7 linked regions of the Homo sapiens genome follow. The protein of the gene in region 7 purifies or fractionates together with the protein of the main gene of each other region. This does not show direct contact. Each region holds a gene or a part of one and is shown on either strand. Other genes may lie near its edges.

Region 1 (4,105 bases), on a different chromosome or scaffold from region 7:
TTAAGAAAACAGATAATAGGCTGTTTCGAATAGAGTATGAGTATGGGTGAGCACTGCAAAATAGTAGAATAAATTGTTGAGTTGGATCTCATTTGGTAATGCATTTGAAATAAAGGGATTTGCTTTGAACCAAGACTGGTTCTAAGCCTGGAACTACAGAATAAGTTCCAAAATTGGGTGTCTAAGAACTCTGAATACCTCTCCAATATTTACCAGTGGTCAAGTCAAACTCGTTTTGCTCATTAATGGTATAAGTCGGCTGGAGCTGAGAATTGGCATTATAGAGAATGTTTTTGAGACAGAGTCTTGCTCTGTCACCCAGGATGGACTTCAGTGGCATGATCTCAACTCACTGCAACCTCTGCCTCCTGAGTTAAGTGATTCTGCTGCCTCAACCTCCCGAGTAGCTGGCGTTACAGGTACCCGCCACCATGCCTGGATAATTTTTATTTTTTTTAGTAGAGATGGCTTGCACCATGTTGGACAGGCTAGTCTCAAACTCCTGACCTCATGTGTTCTTCCCACCTTGGCCTCCCAAAGTGCTGGGATCACAGGTCACTGCACCCAGCCTAGAGTATTTAATATACATTCATATAAAAAAGAAGCACTGGTTTCATAAAACAAATGTACATTATATGAGATTCCACTTCATAAAAGCATGTATGTGTACCCCAACACTAAATTGGCCCTTTTAACAAAATATCAGACTTTGTCCTACTTAACTGGAAAGATTATCTATATTTTATAAAGAAGAGAAATAACATAATAGTAAGGCTGTGATTTCCTCTTTTTTGCAAAAACTATTTTTGAAAAGTATTACTGAATTGATAACATATATATGGAGAGATTTAAAATACTAGATAAGGGAGCTTATTCCAATGAATTTACAGAAAGGTAGGTATTTTAGTCAACTAAAAATATAAATAAAAATTATCAATTCACTTATTTGGATACAGCAGTCATGCCAGAGTTTATAAATATAGTGAAATCACTGAAGATTTTTTTTTACCCCCAAAACTGAAAAAAATGGCAGTGTACCTTGTGAATTTTTTAAATGAAAAAAGAATACGAAATGATGAAGGCCCTTATCTGATGATGACAAACTAGAAAACTGAAATGTAAAGGGGAAAATGTGAGTATGTGTTTCCCTCCAGCAAATTAAAGACAGGGTACATAGATTCAAGAGGTTGCGCTTTGAGGATAAAAAGCTGGGCCCTGTGCAGTTTTCCAAGACAACCTCTGGGCGCCGCTGTCGACCAAAAGGAAGTGAAGGCTTCTCAATTCTGCAGGAGCGTCAGGCAGGGTGCCTTCCTGCTTTGTCCGGTGCACTGAGCACAGACGCTGCTCCTGTTCACCCTCGAGCGCCTAACTAATAAGTCCTAAGCTCAAATCACAGAAGTCCAGGGTGCTGCCATTTCTTTTTGAAAAACATCCCAGAGGAAAGAAGCTCCGCGGAGAGTTCCTGAAATGCAGAGAGCCAGAGAAGCCGAAATGATGAAAAGTCAGGTACTGTTTCCCTTCCTGCTGTCTTTGTTCTGCGGGGCCATCTCCCAGCAGATCCGATACACGATTCCAGAGGAGCTAGCCAACGGCTCACGGGTGGGGAAACTTGCCAAGGATCTGGGGCTCAGTGTCCGGGAGTTGCCAACTCGAAAACTGCGGGTTAGTGCAGAGGATTATTTCAACGTTAGTTTGGAGAGCGGGGATTTGTTAGTGAACGGTAGGATAGATCGAGAGAAGATTTGCGGAAGGAAACTTGAGTGTGCACTAGAATTCGAAACGGTCGCTGAAAACCCAATGAATGTTTTCCACGTGGTTGTTGTAATCCAAGATATTAATGACAATGCACCACGTTTCGTTGCAAAAGGCATTGACTTAGAAATTTGTGAGTCAGCCTTACCCGGGGTAAAATTCTCTCTGGATTCTGCTCAAGATGCAGATGTGGAAGGCAATTCACTGAAGTTATACACCATCAACCCCAATCAATACTTCTCTCTGTCAACGAAGGAAAGTCCTGATGGAAGTAAATATCCGGTATTACTGCTGGAAAAACCTCTAGACAGGGAACATCAGAGCTCTCATCGCTTAATCCTGACTGCCATGGATGGCGGGGACCCGCCTCTAAGCGGCACCACCCATATCTGGATCCGAGTTACGGATGCCAATGATAATGCTCCCGTGTTTAGCCAGGAGGTATACAGGGTTAGCCTCCAAGAAAACGTACCGTGGGGAACCTCCGTGCTGCGGGTGATGGCCACAGACCAGGATGAGGGCATTAATGCAGAGATCACCTATGCCTTCCTCAATTCCCCAATAAGTACCAGCCTCTTCAATCTCAATCCAAATACTGGCGACATCACAACCAATGGCACATTGGATTTTGAAGAGACAAGTAGATATGTGTTGAGTGTGGAAGCTAAGGATGGAGGAGTACACACAGCTCACTGTAATGTTCAAATAGAAATTGTTGACGAGAATGACAATGCCCCAGAGGTGACATTCATGTCCTTCTCTAACCAGATTCCAGAGGATTCAGACCTTGGAACTGTAATAGCCCTCATAAAAGTGCGAGACAAGGATTCTGGGCAAAATGGCATGGTGACATGCTATACTCAGGAAGAAGTTCCTTTCAAATTAGAATCCACCTCGAAGAATTATTACAAGCTGGTGATTGCTGGAGCCCTAAACCGGGAGCAGACAGCAGACTACAACGTCACAATCATAGCCACCGACAAGGGCAAACCAGCCCTTTCCTCCAGGACAAGCATCACCCTGCACATCTCCGACATCAACGACAATGCACCTGTTTTCCATCAGGCCTCCTATGTGGTCCACGTGTCTGAGAACAACCCACCTGGCGCCTCCATTGCACAAGTAAGCGCCTCCGACCCGGATTTGGGACCCAACGGCAGAGTCTCCTACTCTATTCTGGCCAGTGACCTGGAGCCGCGGGAGCTGTTGTCCTACGTGTCCGTGAGCCCGCAGAGCGGGGTGGTGTTCGCGCAGCGCGCCTTCGACCACGAGCAGCTGCGCGCCTTCGAGCTCACACTGCAGGCCAGGGACCAGGGCTCCCCCGCGCTCAGCGCCAACGTGAGCCTGCGCGTGTTGGTGGGCGACCTCAATGACAATGCGCCACGGGTGCTGTACCCCGCGCTGGGGCCTGATGGCTCCGCCCTCTTCGATATGGTGCCACGCGCCGCAGAGCCCGGCTACCTGGTGACCAAGGTGGTGGCGGTGGACGCAGACTCAGGACACAACGCTTGGCTGTCCTACCACGTGCTGCAGGCCAGCGAGCCCGGGCTCTTCAGCCTGGGGTTGCGCACGGGTGAGGTGCGCACAGCGCGTGCCTTGGGCGACAGGGACGCGGCCCGCCAGCGCCTGCTGGTCGCTGTGCGTGATGGAGGACAGCCGCCACTCTCCGCCACCGCCACGCTGCACCTAATCTTCGCGGATAGCCTGCAAGAGGTATTGCCAGACCTCAGCGACCGCCCTGAGCCCTCTGACCCCCAGACGGAACTGCAGTTTTACCTGGTTGTGGCCTTGGCCTTGATCTCAGTGCTCTTTCTCCTCGCGGTGATTCTAGCGATCGCCCTGCGCCTGCGACGTTCCTCCAGCCTCGACACTGAGGGCTGCTTTCAAACCGGTCTCTGCTCCAAGTCTGGGCCCGGGGTTCCTCCCAACCACAGCGAGGGGACTTTGCCCTATTCCTACAATCTATGTATTGCCTCTCATTCTGCAAAGACAGAGTTTAATTCTCTCAACCTGACACCGGAAATGGCTCCCCCTCAGGATCTGCTGTGTGATGATCCTTCTATGGTTGTATGTGCCAGTAATGAAGATCACAAAATCGCTTATGACCCTTCTTTGTCTTCGCACGTGAGTTTCTGCAAATCTAGTTAAATTTTATATATGGCGGCCGGGCGCGGTGGCTCAAGCCTGTAATCCCAGCACTTAACCAGGCTGAGGCAGGTGGATCACTTGAGGTCAGGAGTTTGAGACCAGCATAGCCAAGATGGTAAAACCCGGTCTACTAAAATTACAAAAATTAGTTGGGTGTGGTGGCACGCGCCTGTAGTCCCAGTTACTCAGGAAGCTGAGACAGGAG
Region 2 (3,500 bases), on a different chromosome or scaffold from region 7:
TGGTGGGCACTGAGGGACACTGAGGCACTGCGGACAAAAGGCCCAGCCCAGCTTCACTCCCCCTTACTCCCATGCCTCAGTTTCCCTGGTGGCATGGAGATCACAGAATACTTATCTCTGGGGAGGGGTGTGAGGGTTCCGTGGGTGAATCCACATCCATAGGAGGCTCTCCGTCCACACAGCTTCTGTTATGATCATTTCCTTCGTCACCAGCCTCCCATGCAGTGGCAGCACCTGGCACTCACAGCCCCACTGGCTTCTTCCACCATGCCCGCCTCTGTGACCCTCGGCTCCTTTGCTCCCTCCTCTCCCCACCTGAATCCTCCCAAGTCCTGTCCCTTTTGAGAAGCTCCTGGAGTCATGAGCGCTCTACTGAGGCTGTGGCTGCCTGGACGTGGTTATAGCGATTGTCCACAGACTTCAGTTTTTGCCCAGGTTCCACCCGCTTGCCCTATGAAGTCTGTGGTGGAGCTGCCATGAGCCACATGCTCCTGCCTCCCTCCCGGTCTCTCAGCCTGCAGCAGTGCATGAGCGTCCTGGTGCCCTCAAGCAACAGAAATGGATTCTCCCCCAGTTCTGGAGGCCGGAAGTCCAAAAGCAGGGCGTGGGCAGGGCCGAAGCGCCTCCAAAGCATCTCAGAGAGGATGCATCCTGCATCCTCCAGCTTCTGGTGGTGGCTGCCAGTCCTCGCGTTCCTCAGCTTGCAGCTGACCCTCTCTAATCTCTGCCTGTTGTCACACGCCCTTCTCCCTGTGTGTCTGTGTTCTCACACGGGGCACTCCTCTCTGATAAGGACCCCAGTCCTTGACTAAGCCCCCAATCCAGTGTGACCAGCGCTGTTCCTTGTTGTTCTCTCCCCACCTCCACCTCATCTCTGCCCACCCCCTGCCTAGGTGCACCAACATCTTGAACAGCAATGGCGAACTCCGGGGCTTTCGGCCTCGGGACCGGGACGACATGGTGAGGAAGATCATCGAGCCGATGGCTTGCGATGGCCTCCGCACCATCTGCATCGCCTACCGGGACTTCTCTGCAGGCCAGGAGCCCGACTGGGACAACGAGAATGAGGTCGTGGGTGACCTCACCTGCATAGCTGTCGTGGGCATTGAGGACCCTGTGCGGCCCGAGGTAGCCACCACCTTCTCTGTGAGCTGCCCTGGTAACTGTGCCCTCTGCCCGAGCTTGTCCGGACTGGTAGGGGCGGCCTTCCTTCACACACAGCTGCTGCGGTCCCTCCGTAGTACACTTGAGCCCCGTCCTGGGTGCTCTCACCCTGACACCCGCACAAAGGCTCTGTCCTGCCTGCTGGAAAGCCCTTCCCGCTTGACCTATGGGCCCAGCTCAGGCTCCACCTTCTACCAGGTGAGAAGGTGGCAGTGGCGGAGAGACCGTCGACATTTGGGATCTGATCCACCCAGGACCGATGGACTGGAGGTGGTGCTGAAGCCTGAGGGGACACAGGTTTGGGGCACAGGGTGGGCGTTTATTGGTTGAGGGTTTGGCTGGGGCTACTCTACGGTCAGGACGTCCTGTGGCGAGCTCACAGCAAAGGTCCTGGCGGGAAAGGGAGCCCAGAAGCATATCCCCATATGGACGATGCCACCAGGGGAGTCCAGATGAGGGGACCTCGAGGGCCGCGTGGCAGATGCCATGGCCTTGACACTGGGAAGTCACTTTGTTGTTGAAAGATCCCAGACCCTGGAGAGTGTGGAGGATGGCCGGCCCCGGAGGGAGAATGCAAGGCATGGGGTGCCCCTCTGTCTCCCCAGGGCCTCTGCATGGCACCCACCTGTGTCACAAGCAGGGCCACTGTGACCCTGACAACTTGTCTTTGTAGGAGCCACCCTGGGGGTGCAGGTGCAACCTGGGAGGAGAAGCTTCTGGGCTCTCCTTCGGGAGACAGGCATTCATGTATTGGATCATGTAGCAAAAACACTCAATTCAAAGACAGTGCGTCTAAACGCCAGCCATGGCTCATGTCAACAGAGCAGCCCCGTGCCCCGAGGAGAACATGGTCACTGCGCCCAGAGAGGGAGCACCTCGAGCTTGCCCTGGGAGAAAATGGGTGGTAGCGGAGGACAGGGGACAGAAGTCCAGCGAGGGAAATGGGCCCCGCAAAGGCGGGCAGCGGCATGAGTCCCGGGCCCCACTGAGCCTGGGAGAGCAGAAGGAGAGGGTGCTGGTGAGGCGAAGCAAGGCCACACTTGGGGACAGGAGCCATCGAGTCCCTCTGTTGGACCAGGGAGCAACTGAAGCACAGAGCAGAGGAAGGAATCTTGCCAGAGGGGCCTGGGGAATAGGGACAGCTCCTTTCCAGCTTAAGAGTGGCTGAGAGAGAGTCCAAGGGGTAGACCACAGTGACAGGGCCAGGCTGCGGAGGCTGGGCAGACCCCCACAAAGACTGGCCAGCCTGGTGGTGGCTGAGGAGGACGCACAGAAGGCCCAGCGAAGTCCTGGGTGCCGGCAACAGGCAGTAGGACACAAGGGCCTCACTGAAACCGCCAGGGTGCTTGGAGATGCGGCACGGCTGCAGCCAGAGGAGGGCCCGTGAGGCTGGGCCCTGGGGAGCCATAGGAAGCCTGTGGCTGGGGTGGTATTGATGCTGGAGCTGGGCCGGCCGGGGGCACTGGCAACTTCTCCAGACACCTGGCTGGCTGCTGTGCTGTGGGGCCTTGGGGAGAAGGCAGGGAGCAGGGCTGAGCAGGCGAGGAAGGACAGCCTGGCCTGGCCCTTTGGGGCCATGGGGAAGGAACTGGGCTACACACACTGGGCCTGAGGAGGGAGGAGGCCTGGGTTCGCAGCTGCTGGTTTTCAGGCTCGTCACGGCCACTTGGTGGCAGCAGAGGGGTGGCTTCCAGACTTTTCAGGGACAGGCATTCGCTGGCTCAAAGGAGAATTGTCTTCTTGTGGCTCGTGATCTTGTTATCCAGCACCCCAAGATCCTCAGAGAGTACGAAGTGTCCCCGAGGCTGGCAGTGAGGCCACTTAGTGGTATATGCTGCAGGAACCATTGGATCACCCTGTCACAGCTTAGAGTGGGGCCCCCAGCTGTCTCCCTGGCAAAGATCACAGCCCCCCTGCCCATGGCCTCAGGGGGCGCCAGGATTCAGGGACTCCCAGGTCAATGTCCTCCCCTGGTGTCTCCCGGCTGCCCTACCCCTGGCTCCCACTCCTGCGTGTCTACTCCCCACCGCCGCAGGCTCCCCAGGCCTGGCGGCTCGGCCACACCTAGGCTTCTACACTTACCCGACGGTGCTCACAAGCCCCACTGCCTAGGCTTGACCTCCTCATTCAGGTTCCCAAACTCTGAACCTGGCTCCTCTTCTCCTCTCCCCCTGCCCGTCTACCTCAGTGGCATCAGCTGCCTGACCCTGTCTCTCTGTCCCCGAGCCTGAAGAGCCACATACCTCTTCATTTGGGAACTGTCTTCCCTGTCCCCCCACCACTGGGACAATGCCACCACCTCCCGGCCAGTCTCCTGGCTTCCCGCTCTCAACCCC
Region 3 (3,500 bases), on a different chromosome or scaffold from region 7:
CCATCTCTACTAAAAATACAAAAATTAGCTGGGCGTGGTGGCACGTGCCTGTAGTCCCAGCTACGTGGGAGGCTGAGGCAGGAGAATCGCTTGAACCCGGGAGGCGGAGGTTGCAGTGAGCTGAGATCGTGCCACTGCACTCCAGCCTGGTGACAGAGCAAGATTCCATCTCAAAAAAAAAAAAAAAAAAAAATTTAGAACAGCACCTGGCATATGATAAATGTATATTTAAGTGCTGGCCACTTAGATAAGAGTAACTGTGAGGACTATCTGATATGCACATTTGGCCATGTACTGGATTCTCAATAATTGGTATCTCTAAATAATAATAACAAAAATAATAATTTTTTTTTTGAGAGGGAGTCTCACTGTGTCACCCAGCCTGGAGTGCAGTGGCGCCATCTCGGTTTACTGCAACCTCCACCTCCTGGGTTCAAACGATTCTCCTGCCTCAGCCTCCCAAGTAGCTGGGACTACAGGCATGCACCACCATGCCCAACTACTTTTTTTGTATTTTTAGTAGAGACAGGGTTTCGCCATATTGGCCACGCTGGTCTCAAACTCCTGATCTCAGGTGGTCTGTCCGCCTCGGCCTACCAAAGTGCTGGGATTACAGGCCTGAGCAACTGTGCCCGGCCTATTTTTTTATTTTTGCTGCTGAGAAGGGGATATTGTTCTTGTTCTGGAAGAGGATGGGGGAGAGAAGATGATGGATTATAACCTGGTGTTGGTACACTGTCAGTATTATTTATTCATCAAACAAAGTGTATGCCAGTCCCTGAGGATGCAGGAAGGAGCTCAGAGCCTATCTGGAGCAAAAAACATTTGATATCAGGGCCTGGAGAGAAGGACTAAGAAAATGCTTTGGGGATTCAGAGGAGGGGAATCTGGGAAGACTGCCTGGAAGAGGAAGCATCTGAGCTCAGATGGGAAAATACAGAGTAGGAATGCAGAGGGCGGAAGGGAGGGCATCAGTAAGCCGATGGATGTGGGGATGCTCAGAGTGGGTTTGAGGCAATGTGGGTGGATTCATTTGACTGATGGGACCAGAGAGTAGGTCAGGAGGTCTTGAGAATTAGACTGGAGAGGGAATTTGGGCCTGGTTCTTGGAAAACCTACGTGGAGGAGCTGTTATTCAGGCTGAAGCTGAGGACTCCTACTGCCACTATTTCCCTAGTCACTGATTTCTCCTGGACCTGGACTGGGGTGGAGGCAGGTTCTGGGCTCATCCGGCCTCTCCTCTCCTCACAGGAAGGTGTATGATTTTCTCTCCACGTTCATCACCTCAGGGATGCGCTTCCTCCTCAACCAGCAGGTGTGGGCAGCGACAGGTCGCAGGGTGGCAAGGGTGGGCATGCTCTCACTTTGAGAAGGCCCTGACTCTGGCTCCCACCTCGCAGATCTGCCCTGTCCTCTACCACGCAGGGACGGTCCTGCTCAACTCCCTCCTGGACACCGTGCCTGGTGAGTTGGTGGCGGGTGAGTCTGGGTGTGCAGCTGTCATGCAGCACCTCAGAGCAGGCCCCTTCCGAGCCCTGCTGTTGAACAGTCCTGGGTTCAAATGTGGCCCCTGGAGCTGACTTGTTGTGCGATTTTGGGTGAAGTGCTCATTTCTGTCTGGGCAAAGTGCTTGTTTCCTCACTTGGCTGGCAGTGCCTCCTCCTGGGGTTGCTGTGAGGATTATCTGAGAGAATAGTTGTCAAGGTCCTCAATATGTGCATGCTGATCACTGGCATCCCATTTGTCTTCATCACCTAGCATCTAATAGGTGCTCAATTAACATGAATTCCCTTTTTCTTTTTCTTTCTTTTTTTTTTTTTTTTGCACGGAGTCTTACAGTCTCACTCTGTTGCCAGGCTGGAGTCCAGTGGCGCGATCTCAGCTCACTGCAATCTCCACCTCCCGGGTTCAAGCAATTCTCCTGCCTCAGCATCTCGAGTAGCTGGGACTACAGGCGTGCACCACCATGCCCAACTAGTTTTTTGTGTTTTAGTAGAGACGGGGTTTCACCATGTTGGCCGGGATGGTCTCGATCTCCTGACCTCCTGATCTGCCCACCTTGGCCTCCCAAAGTGCTGGGATTATAGGCATGAGCCACTGTGCCTGGCCATGAATTCCCTTTTTCTAAGCCATGACCTCTGTCTACTGTGGGGCAAAGGTATTTTCCCATCACACCTAACACACAGGCATGGGAAGCGAAGGAGGAGGTAGGAGAAACCAAGGGAAAGGAACCTCATGCCATCTTTTTTTTTTTTTTTTTTTTTTGAGATGGAGTCTCGCTCTGTCACCCAGGCTGGAGTGCAGTGGTGCAATCCTGGCTCCCTGCAACCTCCACCTCCCAGGATCAAGCGATTCTCCTGCCTCAGCCTCCTGAGTAGCTGGGATTACAGGCGCCCACCACCATGCCCAACTAATTTTTGTATTTTTAGTAGAGACGGGGTTTCACCGTGGTGGACCAGGCTGGTCTCGAACACCTGACCTCAGGTGATCCGCCCGCCTTGACCTCCCTAAGTGCTGGGATTACAGGTGTGAGCCACCATGCGCGGCCCCCCCATGCCATCTTGTTTAGTTATTTTTTTGAAACCTCTATAGTGGTAGTAATAATAATAACTAACATTAATGAGCACCTAACTACACACCAGGCCCTAAGTGCTTTCCACATAAAACTAATTTGACCCTCATGACAACCCTGTGAAGGATGTATCCTCATTTTATGGGTGGGCCTCTGAGCCTGGAGAGGTTAAGCACCTTATCCCACATCACACAGCCGTGAGTGACTTGAGCCCCTTCCTGCAGTGCGCAGTTCTGTGGACGAGCTTGTTGGCATTGACTATTCCCTCATGAAGGATCCTGTGGCTTCCACCAGCAACCTGGACATGGACTTCCGGGTGAGCTGCTTGGGCTGGTGTATGACCTCTGACTTCCTAACAAGACCTCTTTCTCTGCTAAGTTGCAAGATTTTACTTCTTAAAGCACAGCTCTGATGAGGCCACTCCCATTACTGAGAATGCTATGGCTCCCTGTTACTACAGAATTAGGTTCAGCCTCCTGGGTCTGGCATTTGAGCCCCTGTTAATCTTACCTGGCCCCACCTTTTATATCTCATCCTGTTTCTTTGCAGCTGCTCTTTCCCAAATTGGACCCTGGCTTCCCACCTCAGGGCCTTTGCTCATGCACGGCCTTTCCCCAACTCCCCCGAAGGAGCTGGACATAAATTTCTATACAAATAATCTCATTTCATTCTCTCACAACCCTGTGAGTCAGGTACTAACATCATCCTAATTTTAGGAATGTGGAGACTTACTCATAGAGGTGACGTCACTTGCCCAAGGCCACATAGCCAGTGTGTAGCCACTACCTTTGGTCTCCCAGAGGAGTATAGCAGTTTCAGAGTGCAGACTCGGGAGCTAGAATCAGTCGGGTGCAGTGGCTCATGCCTGTAATCCCAATACTTTGGGAGGCCCAGGCGAGAGGATCGCTTGAGCCCAGGAGTTTGAGAC
Region 4 (3,500 bases), on a different chromosome or scaffold from region 7:
CAGCCACCCGCAGGGAACTGCCCACAGGGAGCCACCCTTCGCTCAGCCCCACACGCTCAGGAAAGCCCCGAATGCCAGGCAGGACCTAGAATGGCTGGACCTACCCACAGGTCTCCAATCTCCCGGATGTTGCTGCGGTACCGCTGGCAGTCATGCAGCACCTGCAGCGCAGGGAATACGGGAGTGGGGGAGTGTCCAGGACCGTGTGGCAGGGCCCTGAGACACGCACTCCCCACCCGAGGCGGGAGGAACAGCCCGGAGCTACGGGGACAGGAACAGGGCCAGAGCCCGCATGTCCGCGGGACAGTGCCCCAGCTCCGGGGAGCAGAGGCAGCAGCTGCTACTCACATTGGGGTGCCCGTCTCGAAGGACCTTGTGGAGGACGTGGCAGAACTTCCAGCTGAGAATGGAGCTGCTGGGCAGCGGCAGCCCAATGGCGTAGGACCAGAAGGTGAAAGCCCCCTTCTCGTGGTGTGTGCCCAGAATGATGCCTGCAATGTCAAGGCCAAGTGTGGAAGCAGAGACTGGAGCACGGGGGCTCAGCAAACCCGGCTGAGAGAGGCCAGGGCCGCCGGAAGAGGGCCGGCCCCCAATCACGTGCCCATCAACCCCGGGTCACCAGAGCTCCAGTGTCCAGCCAAGGGGACAGGAGTTAGGGCAAGACAAGGAAATCATTGGGCCCAATGGGGGCGTTTTTGTGATGAGACTGAGATGGGAAGGAGCCAAGCTGCACAGGACCCTCCTCCCCGGGCTCAGTGAGGGAACTTGTGACCCCGGCACAGCTGACCGCAGGCCACCTGCAGCACTACGCTGCTCCCACATCCACACCCAACTCCTGGGTCCAAGAGCCGGCCAAGGATACGCCGGGCGTGCTTCTCCTTCACGGGGGCCTCCTGGGTGTTGATGGCTTTGCTGATGCTGATGGCCTGTGAGGGACAAAGGAGCAGTGTTTAGAGCCCCAGGCAGCCACCCCAGGAGACACCACCCCAAGGGGGAGAAGCACAATACTGAACAGGATTCTGCCTGGGTTCAAGGCCAGTGGAGCGATGGGGGAGACAGGAATCCCCTCAACCTAAGCTTCTGAAGGACTTCCCTGTGCCTGATCGGTGCAGCTGGAACTACAGTGAACACCAAGAGCTCCAGGAGTCAGGGGACAAGGACCAAAGCTGGGCTATGGCTCCGGGAGGCCATCCTGCCCAAAACCTGCACGACTTGACTCTCCTGGCAGATGTGGTGCCCTGAGCCCCAGGTCATGGCCCAGTGTGGTGTCCTCCGGCCCCATCTCCCCTTGGGGAAAAGCAGCTGAGACTGGAGCCCCCGGCTGGGGCCCACCTGGCCTTTGCGGCACCCCATGAAGGGTGCACATCACATTGTCCCCACTCTCCTGGGAGGCATTCCCAGGAAACTTAGGCAAAGCCCAGGGCCTGTGGCCCACTGCCCCATAGGCTGCCCCTCTCCTGGGTGGGGCCTCACCCTGTCAAACTGTGTCAAGCTCCTGCTGCCACCTGCAGCCCAGCCAGGGGCGGAGGAAGGCAGGAGTGGGGTCTGCAGCTGTCACCCGGAGCTGCGCAAGTGGCACCTTCACACTTGACCAAGGCCAGAATCTCAGCATCCCTCCCGCTCCACCTATGGCAGTCTCACCCCTCCCCCCCCGCCCCGGCTACTGCCTCCTTTTCCGAGTAGGCTTCCTGGACGTGACTGTGCTCTCGAGGAGGGCTCACGGCGGTACCATCACTACAACCCGGCCCTGGCTCCGTGGGGCATGGGGTATTTCTCATGCAGGGAACAGGTCTGCTAAACCTCTGTCCCCCACCACCAATGTTTGTGACCTGAGAAGAGCTGTCCAGGCCATGGGCGGGAGGGACAGGGCCTCGACAGATGCAGACACTGAGATGGGACACGCAGCCCCCAGCCTCAGCCAGGGCAGCTGGGCTCCTGAGCCACAGGCTGGCCTAAGCCAGGCAGGCCTTGAAGGGCAGGGAGCCGGCTTGCAGGACAGTGCAGCGCTCCTGCGCCTTCTCCCCAGACACCACTGCACTCTCCCACCCAACACCGGAGCAGAGGACATCCAATTAGGGTCTACTGTGGAATTTCCTCTGTGAGAAAAGCCAGCCCGGGAAGCTGGGGGGCCCTACCTGGTGGGACCTCAGATGGGAGCTAGGGGACTGCGGGGCTGGGCCAGGCAGCCTCTGGGCCGCCCCCGGCCCCTAGCACGATGCTGACCCCCTTTCACACACAGGGCCCATTGTACTGGACCCTCCCAGGCAGGTGTCCTGGGGCTGCCCTGAGCCCTGCTCCCTGTAGTCGGGGAGGAGCTGCGGTCCCATCTCAAGGAACCACGACCTGAGGAAATGCACAGAGGCTCTGGTGGGCCTGATCCTGAGGGCTGCCCAGCCAGTGGCCCCCAGGCCTCAGCTCCTTCCTTGAACAAACTCGTATCCACCAACTGTGAGAAGCCATGGCTGAGAGTGTCATGCCCCCAGAGGCAGAATATTGCTCACGACAGCAGCTATGATGATAAGGATCCTGAGTGCCCAGCCCCAGCCAGGCATGGGCAACTCGCCTCCCAGCAACAGCCCAGGGAAGTGGTGACTAACCCATTTTCCTGGTGAGGAAACTGAGGCACAGAAGGCTTATATACTTGTCTGTACAGCTAATAAGGATAAAGGCAGTGTTCAAAGCCAGGTCTGTCTGATTCCACAACCTGTGTCCTTAGTGACTCTGAACAGCCCCCAGGCAGTTCCTCCCGTGGGGAGGGGCTCCCAGGGCAGGAGGCAGGGGCTGTGACTTTCCCCAGCTCACTGGCAAGCAGCTGTCCTGTCACAAGCCAGGCGTGTCCGTCTCCGGGGTGTGTAACCCCATCCCCAGCTGCCGACACCTGAGCTGCCACCTGGTTCGGAAGATTCCTGGCAAGAAGGGTGGAGGCGAAGTGACTGGTGCAGACCTGGCACCAGAGAGGCTGTAGACACAGAGATGCGGGGGTTTCTCCTGACACTGAGGAAACCCCGGGATGGGGCTGAGATAGGGACCCTAGAAGCAGAGAACACATTCTGGGGGAATGGGCTGCCCTCTCCTCTTTGCGAGGAAAGACACAGTGAGGCCAAGGTGCAGCCACCCGTGTCCCCAGGCCCTAGGCTCCAGATGCCCACTCAGCAGAGCTCCAGCTCCCCGCACCCGGCACCCTCACACCCTCCTGCAGCCGCCCTGTTGAAATCTGCACCTTCTGGATGGATGGTCTCTGAGGGCCGGGCACCCTCAGACAGTGGAGTGTTTCCTTATTTATCACCCTCTCCCCTCACCCAGCAGTCAGCAACACGAGGGGAAGCAGATCGGCCTATAGGTGCTGCTGAACCCCCAGCTCCTCAACAGTGCCTGGCATGCAAATGACTTTCATGGCAGGAGGGAGGCCCCAGGAATGCAGTGTGACGGGGCATGCCTTGGGCACATGGCATGGTCTCCTGTGCGCCTGGGCCTCAGTGCTGCCTGCTCCCCGCGCTGGC
Region 5 (3,500 bases), on a different chromosome or scaffold from region 7:
ACCCATCCATGGAGCCACACTGAATGTCTTCTCCCAACATTCAGATACAACCAAACCACACCACCTGTTGTCATCATCAACACACACAGGCCAAGTTTCCACTGAGTACTCAGCATGGTACTAGACCCTGATGAAAAAATGGCCATACTTGTACAAGACAGACAAGTGAACGATGAGGCAATTGAGTGTCTTGAGTCGAATGAGAAGTGCCCTACTAAAGCTTTTCCCAACTTATTCCATGAAACTACTTCTACTGCTACTGCTCACTTCCTTTTTTTTTTTTTTTTTTTTTTTTGAGATGGAGTTTTGCTCTTGTTGCCCAGGCTGGAGTGCAATGGCACGATCTCAGCTCACTGCAACCTCTGCCTCCCAGGTTCAAGCAATTCTCCTGCCTCAGCCTCCTGAGTAGCTGGGATTACAGGCATGTGCCACCACACCCAGCTAATTTTGTATTTTTAGTAGAGACAGGGTTTCTCCATGTTGGTCAGGCTGGTCTTGAGCTCCTGACCTCAGGCGATCTGCCCGCCGTGGCCTCCCAAAGTGCTGGGATTACAGGCATGAGCCACCATGCCCGGCACTCACTTCCATTTTTTGAGTCCTTACTAGGTGTGAGGTACCATGCTAAGCACTTTGTGTGAATTAGTTCAATCAGTGCTCATAACTCTTTATGATATGGGTCATTTTAATATTAATTTTGCAGAAGTGAAAACTAAATAGTGATGCAGCCAAATTCAAACACAAAGCAGGCGGGTCTCCTATTACCTATTATGCTATAAAAAAGGCGTTCTGTGGTGAAGTTAGTTTTGGTAGTAAGAAATTCATGATCACATTAGCCTATTAAAGGCTCTGCAGAGTCCTCCAAAAAAGGGGGAACCTGTTAGACTTCGTTTAACCTTTTTTTTTTTTTTTTTTGAGACAGGGTCTTGCTCTGTCACCCAGGCTGGAGTGCAGGGGCGCAATCTTGGCTCATTGCAACCTCTGCCACCTGGGCTCAAGCGATCCTCCTGTGTAGCTGGGACTACAGTCGTGCACCACCACACCTGGCTAATTTTTGTAATTTCTGTAGAGACAGGGTTTTGCCATGTTGCCCAGGCTGGTCTCAACTCCTGGGCTCAAGCGATCTGCCCACCTCAGCCTCCCAAAGTGCTTGGATGACAGGTGTGAGCTGCCGTGCCTGGCCCCAATTTTGTTTACCTCTTGAGTTTTCTGAATTTATTTCACCATATTGCCCCTCCCTTCCTTTGACGAGCACAGTATGGGAAAACTTGTACAAGACATGGAAATGGGCTTCTGGAAGGAGAAAGTCAGCTTGTCAATGATGAGCAGGATTAGGGCAGGAGGGTCCCCTGCCTCCTCACAGGGTCACCGTGTAAGCAAACTCCTGCGGCAGAAGTGAACCAAGTTGGAGGCAGGGAAAGGGCAGAAAAAGGAATATTCTGGCAAGAAGAGGGGCATAAGAGAAAGCTGAAAGATGAGACTGGAAGAACTGTAGGTTGTAGAGGACATAGGTGCCTTACCAAAAGTTCTTCAGAAGGAACTAGTCCCTGAAAGCTCATGAGTGTTTTAGATGAACTGAGTTTTAGAAAGAGCACTGGAATATATGGTGGGCTTAAAAGGGCATAGAGATGAAGGTACAGGACTGAACCTCTAAGAGTTGGACTATGATGGTGGCAATGGGGGTGATGGATGGATGGATTTGGCAAAGGTTAGGGAGAAAGGACCCACAGGATTCAAGGGATAATTGGATATGAGGTAGGGATAGGGAATGAGGGGAGAGCTACCAGGATTCTCAGGTAGACATCAGCCTTCTGAGTCTGGGTGATAGGATAGTGATGAGATCATTGCCCATACAGAAGCTAATTGAAGAAGCATTTGGTTTCAGACATGTTGAATCTTAAGGGCCAGTAGGCAGAGCCAACTGGAAATAATCAGCAAGTGTCTAGAGCTTCAGGACTCAAAGAGTTTGAGAGAGATTTTTTGATCTGGGCTTTTATAATTTGATAGTCATAAAATTAGAGGGAACATTAAGTGTTGGGTATAACCCAACCCTCCATTTTATGGAAAAGAATCATGGGAAAAGAGACCAAGCGACTTGCTTAGTAGGCAGGACCAAAGCCTTCAATTACCAGATATGGGTTCTGCAGGGAGGTGGGACTGCTGGCCAGTATCTTGAAAGAAAACTGGAAAGAGAAGCACCAACAACCATGTTGCCCTGTGCCTCCCAGACCCCTCCTGGACCCTAATCACCCCTACACCAGGTGGACTACACTCCTTTATAGCCTCCCGGCCCCAAACATCCATGTTAGTTTTGGGGACCTTATCAGTCATCACCCAGACCCTTCAGTGTTTTAGATCAATACAAGGATTCCAAGAACGGTCGCTTATTCCTGAAGATGAGGTGGGAGCCATCTTCAGGAATGGGGATAGTGGGGAGGCAGTTCTGGGCTACCTTCACAGCAGCTCCAAAACTCCTGTCCTGACAGCCTCTTCCACCCTAGCTGCCTTGAATGGGGCTATTAGGAGGGTAAGTCTACAAAGCCAGGGCCACCTCCCCTGGCCATCTTCATAACCTCCTATCCAGAGTTATAGAGTAAGACAAAGCACTGCCAAAGTCTTGGAGGATGGGAAGGAGCTTAGAGACTCATCAGCAGGGCCCTGGGCTTAGCTGTTTTCACCCCTGGCCTCCAGGGACCCTGAGTCTGCACCCTCCACAACTCCTAATTTCTGGTTGGCAGGAAAATCTGTGGCAGTCCCAAGTGGGTATTTGGGTGGCTGGCTGGTTGTGCCAAGTGCCAAGTTGAGATTGCCAGGTTCCAGGGCTGATCGTTAACCTGTGGCAGGCATACAGGGCTGCTGGCTGGGAGCAGCCTGTCACGGTTCCACTCCCCCGACCCCCAGTCCCCAGTCCAAGCCTCCAAGTCTGGCTCCTCATGCCAGCAGCCCTCCCAGAAGCTCCTTCCTATTTCCTGGAAGGAGTCTCCCTTTGAGACCAGCTTTCCTAATCCCTAATGGGTGCCATGCCCTCTCCCCATGTCCAGGCTCCTGGCAGAGCCCTACCCTCTCCAGTGAATATTCTATTTCCTGATCGGGAGGACTGGGGAGTTTCCATTGTTCTGCTTTGTCCCCTTCCCCCAGGTGCCCTGGTTTGTTATCAGGCTCCTCCCTTTTTTTCCACTCCCAGGCCTCTCTGGAGGGGAGTGAAGTGGGGATGGGGGGCTGAGTGGGAGGGGCGACAGCAGGGAGTCTTCAGACTGCTGCAACATCACAAACCAGGGATGAGGAACACAGGATAAGAAAAGAAAGGTTGTTCCCTCATTTGGAAGGAGGCAGTGGCAAGAGCAGTGAGACAGGTGAGGAGCTGGAGTTTGGAGGGTGCTGTTTGGAAATGAGGGAACTAACTGTTGTGGTATTGGTGAGCTGTTTGGGAGTTAGGAGTCTGCTTCTTTTAGGAAGCTGTTCTAGAAACTGCAGGCTATGCTGGTGTTTAGAGGCTGAGCTGG
Region 6 (3,500 bases), on a different chromosome or scaffold from region 7:
ATTAACGGCCACCTTCTTTGTCTGTGTTTTTAGGGTATTTCTCAAGCTGCCAGATACGTTTACCAACGACTCATCAACGACGGGATTTTGAGCCAAGCCTTCAGCATTGCTCCTGTGAGATCTTAGTTAACGTTTCTTTCCTTGTCCTCTTTGGAGCTGTTGTTTTTACCCTTCACCTCATTCTGCTGTCTGTCCTCTAGGAGTACCGGCTGGTCATAGTGGGCCACAGCCTCGGGGGCGGGGCGGCCGCCCTGCTGGCCACCATGCTCAGAGCCGCCTACCCGCAGGTCAGGTGCTACGCCTTCTCCCCACCCCGGGGGCTGTGGAGGTGAGCCTTTGTTTTCCTGCTCTAACAGCTTGCTACTTACAAGTCATGTGGTCAAGACTCATCTTTTTTTTCTTTTATTTTCCTGAGATGAAGTCTTGCTCTGTCGCCCAGGCTGGAGTGCAGTGGCGTGATCTCGGCTCACTGCAAGCTCCACCTCCCAGGTTCAGGCGGTTCTTCTGCCTCAGCCTCCCGAGTTGCTGGGACTACAGACACCCGCCAGCATGCCGGCTAATTTTTGTATTTTTAGTAGTGGTGGGGTTTCACCATGTTGGCCAGGCTGGTCTTGATCTCCTGACCTCAAGTGATCTGCCCGCCTCGGCCTCCCAAAGTGCAGGGATTACAGGCGTGAGCCACCGCACCCAGCTGAGGTTTGTGTTTTGAAGCGCTATTTCACAGAAGAAAGTCTGTCTAGCCTTTCTTAGACCTATGTGACCATACCTGTAATTTCCTCAATGATTTAATTCTAAGAGTCTTTTTTCAAACAGACTTTATTTTTTAGAGCAGTTTTAGGCTGACAGCAAAACTGAGCAGCAGATTGTAGGGATCTCTCATACCCTCCCTCCCCACAAGCAAGCACAACCTCCCCCATTCTCACAGCCCTGGCAGAGGGGTCCGGTTGTTGACATCCATGCGCCTGGTAGGCACATCGCCCAGAGCCCGTAGTATGCTGAGCACTCCCTCCGCCCTCTCGGGGGGCATATGCCCTGGGTGGGGACACATGCATAATGCACATGTTTAAAGACATTTTTATGAGTTTGAAAATTACTTTTTTTTTTTTTTTTGAGACGGAGTCTTGCTCTGTCGCCCAGGCTGGAGTGCAGTGGCGTGATCTCGGCTCACTGCAACCTCCGTCTCCCAGCTTCAAGCGATTCTCCTGCCTCAGCCTCCCGAGTAGCTGGGACTACAGGCGCCCGCCACCACACCCGGCTAATTTTTTGTATTTTTTTAGTAGAGACGGGTTTCACCGTGTTAGCCAGGATGGTCTCGATCTCCTGTCTTCTGACCTCATGATCCGCCACCTTGGCCTCCCAAAATGGTGGGATTACAGGCATGAGCCACCACGCCTGGCTGAAAAGTTTATATTTTTTTTTGCTGATTCCAGCATACTGACTGTTCTGTGTAACCTTTTGCCATGATTATAAAGGAAAATTATACCACTTTATTTCATTAAAATGAAATAAAGGCCAGGCGTGGTGGCTCATGCCTGTAATCCCGGCCCTTTGGGATGATTAAAAAGTATGTACGTAAAGAACAAAAAGAGCTTTTCTTCGCACACTTGGTTTCTTTGACATATAGTTCACACAGGAAAAAACAGGAGAATGTATAAGTGCTTAAATCTTTCCCTCAATAAAGAAGTGTTCAGAATAATGAATTGTTGCCTAGCAGTCTACAGAGGCAGACATTAATTTTTTAAAACTTAAATTTCAGTCGTCTGTTTTCTTGCTGTCTTTTTTTTTTTTTTAATTGACACAGAGTGTCACTCAGTCTCCCCAGCTGGAGTGCAGCAGCACAGTCATGGCTTGCTGTAGCCTCTGCCTCCTGTGCTCAGGTGATCTTCCGGCCTCAGCCTCCCAAGTAGCTGGGACCATAGGCGCACACCACCACATCCAGCTAATTTTTGTAAGGAACAGGGTCTTGCTATGTTGCCCAGGCTGGTCTTGAACTCCTGGGCTCAAGTGATCCTCCTGCCTCACCCTCCCAAAGTGCTAGGATTAAAGGTGTTGAGCACTGTGCCTGGCCTCATTTTCTTGCTTTCTCAAGAATATTCTCAAGTTTTGGGCTTGAAATGAGCAAGTATTTTTTTTTTCCATCGTCCATATCTGGAATCAACCGTTTCTCCAAGGAATATTGGTTCCTTTTAGCAGGAAATGGTATTTCTGAACTGAAATCGGGGCACTGGTAGTTCTCATTACCACAGGGCTGGTCATAATTTCCAGGCCTTTTCATTGGAAAGAGGTAGGAAAGGCTTTTGTTACACCAAAGAGAAAATGTAACTGTAGTGTATAGTGATACTTAAACATCAGGAGGCTGGGCATGTTGGGTCACACCTGTAACCCCAGCGCTTTGGGAGGCTGAGGCAGGAGGATCACTTGAGCCCAGGAGATCGAGACCAGCCTGGGCAACATAGACCCGGTTCCTTACAAAAATTAGCTGGACGTGGTGACGTGTGCCTGTGGTCCCAGCTACCCGGGAGGCTGAGGCAGTAGGATTGCCTGAACCCAGGATGAAGAGGTTGCCGTGAGCCGAGATCGTGCCACTGCACTCCAGTCTGGGTGACAGAGCTACACTCCGTCTCAAAAGAAAAAAAAAAAAAATTGGCCGGGTGTGGTGGCTCACACCTGTAATCCCAGCACTTTGGGAGGCCAAGGCCGGCAGATCATGAGGTCAGGAGATCAAGACCATCCTGGCTAACACGGTGAAACCCTATCTCTACTAAAAATACAAAAAATTAGCTGGGCGTGGTGGTGGGCGCCTGTAGTCCCAGCTGCTTGGGAGGCTGAGGCAGGAGAATGGCGTGAACCTGGGAGATGGAGGTTGCAGTGAGCTGAGATTGTGCCGCTGCACTCCAGCCTGGGAGACAGAGCGAGACTCCATCTCAAAAACAAAAAAGTCCTTTCTGTCACCCCAGAGGTAGAATGTGGTGGTTTTGACTGGTGTTTCCATTATGTCCATGGCTGGAAGGAAGCGTGTCTGTGTTCCTCTCCTCCTGTTGATGAAAGCCTGCACCTTTTCCCTGCTCTTCTGTCTCTGGTCGTGGCTGTTCACTTTCACCGCATGTCCTGAGATGACCCCGCAGTGGCACACACAGTCCTCCTCCTTCTCCCAGCTGTGCGGGACGCACTATTATGTGACTCGTTGTTGGGAGCTGAAGGCAGTTCTGTGGATGGGTGTTTGGAGGCTCCAGCCTCTGCCGGTGCAGGTTCTGCCGCAGTGAATCGCCTGTTGCCTCTGCCCCTTCATTTTTGCTGGGGCATCTTTTTTTTTTTTTTTTCTTTTGAGATGGAGTCTCGCTCTGTCGCCCAGGCTGGAGTGCAGTGGCGCGATCTCAGTTCACTGCCAGCTCCGCCTCCCGGGTTCATGCCATTCTCCTACCTCAGCCTCCTGAGTAGCTGGGACTACAGGCGCCCACCACCACGCCTGGCTAATTTTTTGTATTTTTAGTAGAGACGGG
Region 7 (3,234 bases):
CAAAAACTACTTGAAACATGGGCAAAGTAGCTGAACAGGCATTTCTCAAAAGAAGACATACAAATGGTCAGCAGCTATATGAAAAGGTGCTCAGACAAAAGCTTTGTCTATTGAGATGATAATTTTTCATTCCTTTTGTTAAAATACTGAATTACATTGATTGAGTTTTTGAAAATTAAGCTATCCTTGCTTTTCATAAACAAAATCAAAGGATAACAAAAAACCAGTGTGGTCATGATATACTGTCTATTTTATAGAGACATGAATCTTACTTGTTAATATTTGTTAAGGGATTTATATTTCTGTGAGAGATCTTCTATGACTTTCCCATTCTGTAGTTTCCTTTTCAGGTTTTGGTATCAACTTGTTCCTAGTCTGATCAAATGTATTTGTGTAAATATATACAAAATATTCTCAGGGAAAATTTATGCAAGTTTGTGTGTGTGTGTGTCTGTGTGTTTCATGAGTGCATAAGAGTTTGAAAAAACCACCAACAAACCTTGCTGAAGTGGCATTTACTTTGTGGGAACATTTTTGATTACAGGATCAATGCATTTTATATATGTTTATGTATGATGATTCAGTTTTTCTATTTATCCTTATGTTCATTAAGTAAACTGTAATTTTTCGTATTTCATCTATCTCATCTACATTTTCTGTTATGTCAGCATAGAATTGCTGACAGTTTTCTTTCACCTCTGTAAAGCTGTGTGTAGGGTCTGTAGTGCTGCCTCCTATTTTGTTCCTGTATGGAAATGGATGCCTGCTCTTTTTTCATTTTTATTTTTCTCATTGTGGCCAAGATTCATGTATCATTAATGTTTTCAAGAATAAACATTTTGACTTTATTAATTTTTCTCTATTTTTTGTTTGTCCTCATTAGAAGCTCCCATTTTCCCATGTCATTGGTTTGATGTGTAATATTTACATGATCATTCAATTTAAAACATTGTCTGACTTCTGTTTTGTTTTATCAGTTAACTCATTGTGAATTGAGAGGTCTGCTACTTTATTTTGATAATGCAGGGATATTATTTATCTTTGCAGAATCAGGTGACTCCCAACGTTCCCGGAATCTTCTAGTGGTCTGTGTCAGGGGTCTGGGCTGGCTGGGGTTCAGTGATGTCTACTGGAGGCAGCTTCCATGCCTTCTGGGGTCCTGAGTCTCCATGGCTTGTGGGGTCTGGGTCCCCCCTGGATTAGTGGATGGCCAGAGTGGCATAGACACTGGGCTCAGCTGGAGAGGCCCCTTCCTGGGATGGAGGAGGCTCAGTTGCCTTCTGTCTGAGGGTAAAGCTGTGCAGCCGGGCGTAGGTCACATCCTGGGGGGCTTCAGATGCAGCAGCCTGCAGCGGGGGAGAGTGAGAGGGAAGGAACGTGGTGGGGGTGGGGGAGGCCTGGGGGCCTGGAGAGGAAAGGACTCACCTCAGTGTCCATCTGTCTGTCCTCTTCTGCCTGTCTGTCCTTTGTGTCCAGGAATTCCCCAGACAGTGGGGAGGGAGGAGAGGCCATTTCTCTCCTAGGTCTGGAGTGTTTCACCTTGGCATACGTCACTGCCTGGGGGTCTTCATCGTGTGGGCTCTGCTGGAGAGAGACAGTGGTGGGGGGTGTCCTTGAATCCTCCTGACTCCCTGGAGTCAATTTTCCCCACTGTTCCCAGGGTGATCCGATTACATCCCTTTCCTGACGGAATCTCAGGGATGCCCTAAGGCCGTGGAGGGTCTGGCCGCTCCCTCCCTGTGGTTCTGGTCTCTGCTCCTCACTCTGACCTTGCCCATTTGGCTGCAGCCTCACGCGGCCTTCCTGCAAGAGCTCGCTGCTGCCTCGGGGCCTTTGCACGGCTGTTTCCTCTGCCTGCAGGGGCTCGTCCATTAGAGGATCACGTGGCCCTCTCCGTCCAGGCTTCTCAGATGACAGCTGAGCAGACAGCCCTCCCTTTCCATTCAGACTGGCCCCACTGCCCCACACTCTCTGCCCTTTACCTGGTTTATGTTCCTTACAGCACGTTGCACTCCTGGACACGATGCATTTATTTGCATTTTGTCTCCCACCACGAGGTGAGCTCAGGAGGCGGGGGCGGCTTTGCTCCCTGCTGTGTCTGCAGCTCCCATGGGGAGCCCCATCCACAGTGAGCTCCCTGGGAACACTCACTAGATGAATGAATGAAGGGGAGCCCAGGGGACTGGAGTGGTTCATTTATTCGTCATCCTCCTGAGGCCTGGGGAGCTCTCTAACAACCAGATGGCCAAACAGAGGATGAGGAGCAGGAAGGGGACCCGGGAGGAGGCCCATGAGGTCCCAGGACAGCAGGAGAGAGTGAGGTCCCAGCAGGCAGGAGGCAGCGTGCTGGACAAGGAGGGGTCCACCGTGACGATGCTGAGAGCCGGGGGAAGGAGGACAGAGAAGTCCTGCAGGATTAGATCTGGCACCAGGAGGCCTTTGGTGCCGGGGACAGGGGCGGGTTCTCACCCGAGTGTCCATTTCCACCCCGTCCTCAGGCTGTGTGTTCTTCACGGCAGCACCTGCTGGGGTAGAGCAAGGGGTTCATCTCCTGGGAAGGTTCCCTGGGACCTCTCATTCCTGCTGGTCCCTGCCCTGTTCCCATTAGTGCCACTGCAACGCAGGGAGGGGCTGTGATGTCCCCGAGGTCCCACAATGTGGGTTCAGACCACTTCTCCCTGAGTCCCTGACCAATCCTAGCCTGTGCTCCTGCCCCCATTGCTATTGAAATTTTGGGACCCCCAGCTCCACCCCAGGTGCACCTTCTCTGCCTCTCACTCACAGAAGTTTTCTCCCTGGACGTCAGCAGCTGGGCTGGACCTGGGGGAGGATACGGGAGTGTAAGGGGACAGTGAGGTGGCTGTTGGGATGGGTGGGAGTCTGAGGTCTTTGGGCAGAATTACCTCCTCTGTAGGCCCCCGTCCTTGGGCTCTGGCTCGGCAGCCCCTGGAGGACGTTGGAAATCAGCCTGTCTCTGGGCTGGGGGAAGATGGACAGAGTCTCAGCTCTGGGAACGTTAGAACCACCTGCCTTGCACATGCAAGTCAAGAGGAAAGGAAACCTGAAAATACACTTGCAAGGATGTTTTAAATACTTTCTAAGTTTAGAAAAACCGAAAGAATAAAGCACTTCCATTACTCCCTCATTCATTTTCTTCTTTCTAGATTTTCTCACTGGGAATTTCTGGAGCAGAGTTTCTAAGATGACCTCTCCTATCTGGAGTCCCTTTGGCTG

What was found.
Region 1: the proteins of LILRB4 (region 7) and PCDHGB1 purify together in Homo sapiens (co-immunoprecipitation; one large-scale study listed by IntAct). This does not show direct contact.
Region 2: the proteins of LILRB4 (region 7) and ATP2B3 purify together in Homo sapiens (affinity purification with mass spectrometry; 2 studies listed by BioGRID and IntAct, with this or other methods). This does not show direct contact.
Region 3: the proteins of LILRB4 (region 7) and PLTP purify together in Homo sapiens (co-immunoprecipitation; one large-scale study listed by IntAct). This does not show direct contact.
Region 4: the proteins of LILRB4 (region 7) and HIP1R purify together in Homo sapiens (co-immunoprecipitation; one large-scale study listed by IntAct). This does not show direct contact.
Region 5: the proteins of LILRB4 (region 7) and PCDH1 purify together in Homo sapiens (affinity purification with mass spectrometry; one large-scale study listed by BioGRID and IntAct). This does not show direct contact.
Region 6: the proteins of LILRB4 (region 7) and DAGLB purify together in Homo sapiens (co-immunoprecipitation; one large-scale study listed by IntAct). This does not show direct contact.

The regions. Positions count from the first base shown.
Region 1 is NC_000005.10:141,348,794-141,352,898, forward strand, and holds the start of PCDHGB1 (protocadherin gamma-B1 isoform 1 precursor), read left to right. Parts: upstream 1-1,305; 5' UTR 1,306-1,467; coding exon 1,468-3,876; coding exon of another isoform or gene 3,877-3,900; intron 3,901-4,105. UniProt on the Homo sapiens protein: Potential calcium-dependent cell-adhesion protein. May be involved in the establishment and maintenance of specific neuronal connections in the brain.
Region 2 is NC_000023.11:153,552,142-153,555,641, forward strand, and holds part of ATP2B3 (plasma membrane calcium-transporting ATPase 3), read left to right. Parts: intron 1-893; coding exon 894-1,128; intron 1,129-3,500. UniProt on the Homo sapiens protein: ATP-driven Ca(2+) ion pump involved in the maintenance of basal intracellular Ca(2+) levels at the presynaptic terminals. Uses ATP as an energy source to transport cytosolic Ca(2+) ions across the plasma membrane to the extracellular compartment.
Region 3 is NC_000020.11:45,905,656-45,909,155, reverse strand, and holds part of PLTP (phospholipid transfer protein isoform a precursor), read left to right. Parts: intron 1-1,251; coding exon 1,252-1,315; intron 1,316-1,400; coding exon 1,401-1,464; intron 1,465-2,796; coding exon 2,797-2,888; intron 2,889-3,500. UniProt on the Homo sapiens protein: Mediates the transfer of phospholipids and free cholesterol from triglyceride-rich lipoproteins (low density lipoproteins or LDL and very low density lipoproteins or VLDL) into high-density lipoproteins (HDL) as well as the exchange of phospholipids between triglyceride-rich lipoproteins themselves.
Region 4 is NC_000012.12:122,845,457-122,848,956, reverse strand, and holds part of HIP1R (huntingtin-interacting protein 1-related protein), read right to left. Parts: intron 927-3,500; coding exon 863-926; intron 492-862; coding exon 349-491; intron 162-348; coding exon 105-161; intron 1-104. UniProt on the Homo sapiens protein: Component of clathrin-coated pits and vesicles, that may link the endocytic machinery to the actin cytoskeleton. Binds 3-phosphoinositides (via ENTH domain).
Region 5 is NC_000005.10:141,857,911-141,861,410, reverse strand, and holds part of PCDH1 (protocadherin-1 isoform 2 precursor), read left to right. Parts: intron 1-3,500. UniProt on the Homo sapiens protein: May be involved in cell-cell interaction processes and in cell adhesion.
Region 6 is NC_000007.14:6,413,455-6,416,954, reverse strand, and holds part of DAGLB (diacylglycerol lipase-beta), read left to right. Parts: intron 1-33; coding exon 34-114; intron 115-200; coding exon 201-328; intron 329-3,500.
Region 7 is NC_000019.10:54,665,985-54,669,218, reverse strand, and holds the end of LILRB4 (leukocyte immunoglobulin-like receptor subfamily B member 4 isoform 1 precursor), read right to left. Parts: intron 2,980-3,234; coding exon 2,904-2,979; intron 2,821-2,903; coding exon 2,783-2,820; coding exon of another isoform or gene 2,775-2,782; exon of another isoform or gene 2,763-2,774; intron 2,526-2,762; coding exon of another isoform or gene 2,523-2,525; coding exon 2,470-2,522; intron 1,585-2,469; coding exon 1,426-1,584; intron 1,347-1,425; coding exon 1,200-1,346; 3' UTR 501-1,199; downstream 1-500. UniProt on the Homo sapiens protein: Inhibitory receptor involved in the down-regulation of the immune response and the development of immune tolerance. Receptor for FN1. Receptor for apolipoprotein APOE. Receptor for ALCAM/CD166.